2 separate regions of the Homo sapiens genome follow, and region 2 is linked to region 1. The links come from fine-mapping of genetic effects on gene expression. A gene starts in region 1. The other region holds a variant in brackets. All regions are shown on one strand. Distances are between the middles of the regions.

Region 1 (2,900 bases):
CAATCACCAGCCGTTAGGCCCTATGGATGGAAGGTTCCTGCCTGCAGTGGCATTTTAGGATCCACTATCATCTGCTTTATCTTCCTAGTGGCAAGGGACTGGACCAGATGCTTTTGGAAAGCGCACCAAGCTTAAAGGTGGCTCTCTCTGCAGGTGCCCCTCCTCCCTTCACGCCAGAGGCTCACCCCCACCCCGCCCGGGCTCCCTGTTAGAGCCAGGCCTGGCTCTTCAGCCTTGCAGCTCAGGAAACCAGAGCGCAGCGCTATAGCCGCGACTGCGGCGGCGGCGGCGGCGCAGGGGGCGGGGGAGGAGAGAAGCGCCCACTTCGTCCCGCTGCCTCCGCAGCAGCCCTGGCCCTAGCCCCGGCGCATCAGAGCGGTCCTTGGGAATCTTTGGGCTTGTTGCTCCGGCGGCCGCCAGCTGGGAGCCCACCACCGCTCGATGGTACCGAACCGACCCGTGTAGCCCCATAACCCCAGCCCAACTCCGAGGAGCTAGCGCAGACCGCTCTCCGCCCTCAGCTGCGGCGAGGCAAGGGCTGGCAGCGCTCGGACGCCTCCGTCTTGCCCTTCCCATGCCTAAGCGCGGGGAATTACACGTTCCCGGTGTAGAACAGACGATCGGGGCTATTAGGGCTGGGCGGTGGGAGTGGGGGTTGGGAGCACCATTTTTGGCTGGACGTGTGTCCAGACTCATCGTCTCTGGTCCTTAGGACCCCATCTTCCTCTGCATCTCCAGGTGTCGGCCCCTCTGTACCCGCCTCCCACGGGGCTCGTCCGGCGAAGGGCAGCCGCAGCCCACATCTACTCCCCGCCCTCAATCCCTGCCCCCTCTGCCCGCCGCAGTCACTCGCCTGGCTGGGAGCAAGCCTCCCCTCTCGCTGAGGGTGCAGAGAGCGCCTAGGGCGCCAAGAGTAGAGGGGCCAAAGTTCAAGCGCCATCAGCCAGCCGAAGGCCCTGAGCCCCCAGGGCCGCGGCCGGGACGCAGGGAGGTCAGGACGCGACGCTCGCCTCACCTGTTTCTCCAGCGGCTCCTTGGCCGACAGCGCCGGCTTGGGGGAGGGCGCGCGGTCGCAGACGCAGCCCTCCAGCAGGTAAAGCCCCGAGGGCCGCGAGCTCGAGTCGCTCTCGAAGTAGAAGAGCAGGTTCTGCAGCAGCGCGAACCACTTGGTTTGCCATTTTGTGTTGTCCGAACTCCGCTTGCTCAGGTAGCCTTTGCGCGTGCCGTCCTTGCGCGCCAGCAGTCCCAGGGACGCGACGTGGCCATCATTCAGCCGGATCCCCTTCTGCATGGTGCTCAGAGGCCAGCGAGACCCCACGCGCTTACATCTTCTCCGCGCAGCAGCCCCCCGTCCGTGCGCGCTGCGCGCTGCCTCTCTCTGGCGCTCGCTCGCTCGCTCCCTCTAGCTCTCCCCTCCCCCCAAATATCTACACTCCAGGATCTGGCGCCGAGCCGCGGCTTCTTGAATCCAGATATACCATTCCCCGCTGGAACCTCTTCTCCGCTCCGCAGAGCCCCAGTACCCGGAAGATGCCGCCCGACCCTCCTCCGGTGCCGGGCAAACTGAGGGACTGGCGATCTGCGCGCTGGCGAGGGGCAGGCGGAGTCATGTGACGCCGATCCCTCGAAGAGCCCGTTTCAGCAGCGCGGACAGGGACACACGCACGCAGCCCCGCCGAGGCGCAGAGCCGCGCGCAGGCTGCAACTTGGTGCCTCCTCCCCCTCCCCAGACACACACACACGCACACGCACACGCACACACTCAAACCCTGCCCTCCCTCCCCTCATCTCCCCTTCTCTCCCTCGGATGTTAAAAAGCAAATCAGATCAATTTTCGTTTAACCCAATGAAACCCCGAAGGCTCGCCATCCCGGGAGTTTGCGTCTTTGCGCCCCACCGCGGCGCACTGTAGACCTGGGGTTAAGTGCCAGTTGTCATTTTCTCCTCCAAAGGCTCGCCCCCCCCCCCCACTTTATTTCTAATACGAGGTGGAAGGAGGAAGGTGGGTGGCGAAATAGAGCTGCAAAAGCGTCCAGTCCTAGTCTTTGCATAGTCAGCCGGGTCACATTGAATTCCAGCATCCGGCTGCACTCCCGGCGGCTTCCCCAGCTACCTGAGGACAGTACAGGGGGTGAGATGGGGTGGTGGTTGGTGAACGTTGGTTACTTTATTTTATATTATTTTATTTTGAGAGTTGCCATAATTACCGGCGCCACCCCCCGTGCACCCTGAGGTCTGGTTGGCGAGCCGCTGCTGGGAGTTTTCTGCAAATACCCCCCAAAGCCTGAAGGCGGGCTTCAAACGCAGGCGCCGGGGACCATGGGAGCCTTCAAATAGCTGCGCTGGCGCAATGATACCTTAATGATAGATTTTCCGTTCTTATTTTTAGCTCTCATTCGCCTACACAGTTACACGGCATTTATCCGAGAACGTCACAGCGCCCGCATGCTGCACCGGGAGGGCGCGCGGGCCGCCGGGCGAGCCGGGAGCTGGGGCGGGGAGCGCGCATCGCTGTCTGCCGCAGAGGGCAGCGAGCTCGCCCCGACCCGGAGCAAGCCGCGCCTGGCCCGGGCGCTTTGCAGCGGGGATGGGTGCCCGCGCAGCCCTGTGAAGGAAAGACACCATCTTTCCGCACGGAAACTGCGTATACCCCTCCCCCGACACACACACACACACACACACACACACACACACACACACACACCCCACACTCACACACAGCACACACCACACACGCACAGATACACACCACACACCACACACCCACACACCACACACACCACACACACACACCACACACACCACACACACACACCGCACACACCACACACAAACCATACACCACACACACCACACACGCACACACACACGCCACACACACCGCATACACAAACACCACA
Region 2 (2,900 bases), 57 kb before region 1:
GCGGGCCAGGGGAGAGAGAGCACGAGGGGGTGGTGGGAGAGAGAAAATGGTTCTTTTAGCCCAGAGGACTTCCATGAGCAGAACTGAGGAAGGAGATAGGCTGCCCTTTGGTCACAGACTCTAACTTGGAGGCTCTTCCAGGGTCTTGTCTAGGGCTCTGCTCTGGCTGAGGGTGGGGTGGGGTGCTCAGGAGCCAGGAGAGAAAGGTGGCGTGGACAGGCCCACAGTCAGCTTGCCCTGCACCCAGCATTGTCGGCTGCTGGCCCTGACCACCTCCCCCGCCCCCTTTGGCAGCCCAGAGCTGGGGTGCGTTAAGCACTGTGCCCCCACCGCCATGGTCCATCCCCCACACCTGCCTCCCTGACTCTACCCCACCCAGGCAGGGCCGGACGCCACCTGGAACATGGGGTAGGTGAGGAAGGTCTCCAGCGTCCTCTCCTCGCAGTCAGGCTTGGCCTCGTAGTGCTTCAGCAGCTTGTCGAAGTCACGGTTCTGCTTGCAGTGGGCCAGGATCTGCAGGCTGTACTGGTGGTTGCGGACGAACTCTTGGTAGATGTTGAGCATGGGCAGCAGGATGTCAAATAGGTCAGCTGGAAGGACGAGGCAGTCAGCGGGTGGCTAGGGCAGCTTGGTGGGGACAGAATCCCCTAGGCCCTTGGCTCCCCCAGCTACACCCAGAGAGGCCAGGGGCCAGGTTCAAGTTCCCCACCCCAGAGACATCTCTGCTCTTGGGGATGACTCCAGTACCACTGCCCTATCCAGTGCTAGTAGGTGGGCCCCCATCATTGGGACCACATTAGAATCACAGACTCTTAGAGACGTGGGGCCCTGTCTAGTCGACACTTGTGATGGGAGTGTCAGAGAGAGGAGGTAGAGTGGGCGCTGTGGGGTGCCACCTGGATCCCCCCAGCTGCCAGGAGTGCTGGTGGCCGATGGCTGTCAGCTGGGTCCCTCTCCAGGCATTGCCCTCAGCTGGAGGAAGCTGCCTTGCCTGGTCTGTCCTCCTGCTTCAATTCAGGACACCAGTGTGAGGTCACCCCTTCTCCAGAGCTTCCTGTGGGGTCGGCTGAGGCTTCTGTTGCAGCTGGAAGGCTGCCCAGTTCCTCCCTCTGCCTGTCCCCGTGCCCTATGGTGCTATGGCCTAGGACACTCCCCAAGAGGCCACCCTCCCTCCTGCAGTCTCCGTCCTGAGACAGAAGTGGCCTATCTGAGGTCACAGGGCAAGTCAGCAGCCGGCCTGGGGCTGGGTCTCCTGACCTCCTGATTCCAGGGATTTCCTACCATATGACACATGAGTCTCTGCTCCTTCGTTCATCTGCCATTGTCCAAGCAGGGCTTCCAGGCTCTGCATTATCTAGTTCACCAGGTGGGGCCCTTTCTGCCTATAGTTCTGTCTCAAGCTTCCTGGGTATATACTTTG[C/T]CTTTCCAGTGCCCCCAAGTCCCAACCAATCTCCCCAAATCTGCCCTTCAACGATTTGATAGGCTGGGATGGGGTCATGTGAAACATCTTCCTTATCTTTATTTATTTATTTATTTGATGGAATCTTGCTCTGTTGCCCAGGCTGGAGTGCAGTGGTGCGGTCTCGGCTCACTGTAACCTCTGCCTCCCGTGTTCAAGTGATTCTCCCACCTCAGCCTCCCAAGTAGCTGGGACTACAGGTGTGCATCACCACACCCAGCTAATTTTTGAATTTTTGTGTTTTTTGTAGAGATAGAGTTTTACCACGTTGGCCAGGATGGTCTTGAACTCCTGCCCTCAAGTGATCTGCCTACCCTGGCCTCCCAAAGTGGTGGGATTAAAGGCGTGAGCCACTGTGCCTGGCCTTGAAACATCTTCTTCTTCTTTTTTCTTTTCTTTTTTTTTTTTTTTTTTTTTGAGATAGAGTCTCGTTCTGTTGCCCAGGCTGGAGTGGAGTGCAGTAGTGAGATCTCGGCTCACTGCGACTTCTGCTTCCTGGGTTCAAGCAATTCTCCTGCCTCAGCCTCCCGAGTAGCTGGAACTACAGGTGTGCACCACTACACCTGGCTAATTTTTGTAATTTTAGTAGAGACGGGGTTTCACCATGTTGGCCAGGCTGGTCTCGAACTCTTGACCTCAGGTGATCTGCCTGCCTCAGCCTCCCACAGTGCTGGGATTAAAGGCATGAGTCACCGTGCTCGGCCAAAACATCTTCTTATAAGTCCCATTTAAGAAAGGAAACATGGTTTCCTTGTAATCAACTTTAGAGGGTAGCTCATGTGATGGGTGTCTGACCACCTGACGGACAATGTCTTCAACAATGCAACTGCAGAATATGCGGACCCCATCTTTCTAAGGACACCTTATTTTGACCTTAGAGAAAAACACGGGTCTTTGACTTGAGAAAAATAATAGTGCCTACTTCCCCCTGGGAAGCCTCCATGCCTGAGGGCAAGGGAGCTCTGGAGAGCCAGGCCTGGGTCTGCTCTGTGCCCTCCACCTATGCAGCCTTTGCTATTCCTTTACTTCCCTAAGCCATTTTCTTTGCCTCCATCATGGAGATGACACCAACACTCACCTTTATCTACCAAATTAAGAAAGTGAAAAAAAAAAAGAAAGACATTTGGTGTAGGTTGAGGGTGAGATGCAGGAGGTTCTTCTGTCTGTTGCTTGTGGAACTAGAGCAGTGCAGCCATCTTGGAGAACAATGGGACAATATGTATGAAGCAAGAGCTTTTCACATGTTTGGATTCTTTGTTTTAGCAATTCTGCTCATTGGAAACCCATCCCAAGGAAATGATCTCTAATATGGAGAAAATTTCTTATGAAGAGATGATTACTTCTAACAATAAAAAATTGGAACAACTCTAAGAGCCAACCATAGCAGATGGTTAGATAAATGACAGTGCCTTCATGGGTACTGGAGTATTACACAGCGATC

Which allele goes with the higher level. Positions count from the first base shown, and alleles are read on the strand shown. Sizes are in standard deviations (SD) of each study's normalised expression.
For the expression in prefrontal cortex of the gene that starts at base 1,573 in region 1, allele T in region 2 goes with a higher level than allele C (small effect, 0.31 SD a copy in GTEx).

Evidence for each region. PIP is the estimated chance that this variant, and not a neighbour inherited with it, causes the effect.
Region 2: its variant is the best candidate, but not a certain one, in a credible set for the expression of RASGRF1 in prefrontal cortex (GTEx, PIP 0.89).

What each region holds. Positions count from the first base shown.
Region 1 is chr15:79,089,208-79,092,107 of GRCh38, forward strand. It overlaps RASGRF1 (Ras protein specific guanine nucleotide releasing factor 1), which reads right to left and starts at 1,573. Exons shown (of 27, transcript NM_001145648.3): 1 at 1,016-1,573. The coding sequence starts at 1,291.
Region 2 is chr15:79,031,727-79,034,626 of GRCh38, forward strand. It overlaps RASGRF1 (Ras protein specific guanine nucleotide releasing factor 1), which reads right to left. Exons shown (of 27, transcript NM_001145648.3): 7 at 397-590. Among named protein-coding and RNA genes, the nearest start is that of RASGRF1, 58 kb to the right of the region's middle. The variant C/T (reference allele first, on the strand shown) is at 1,421.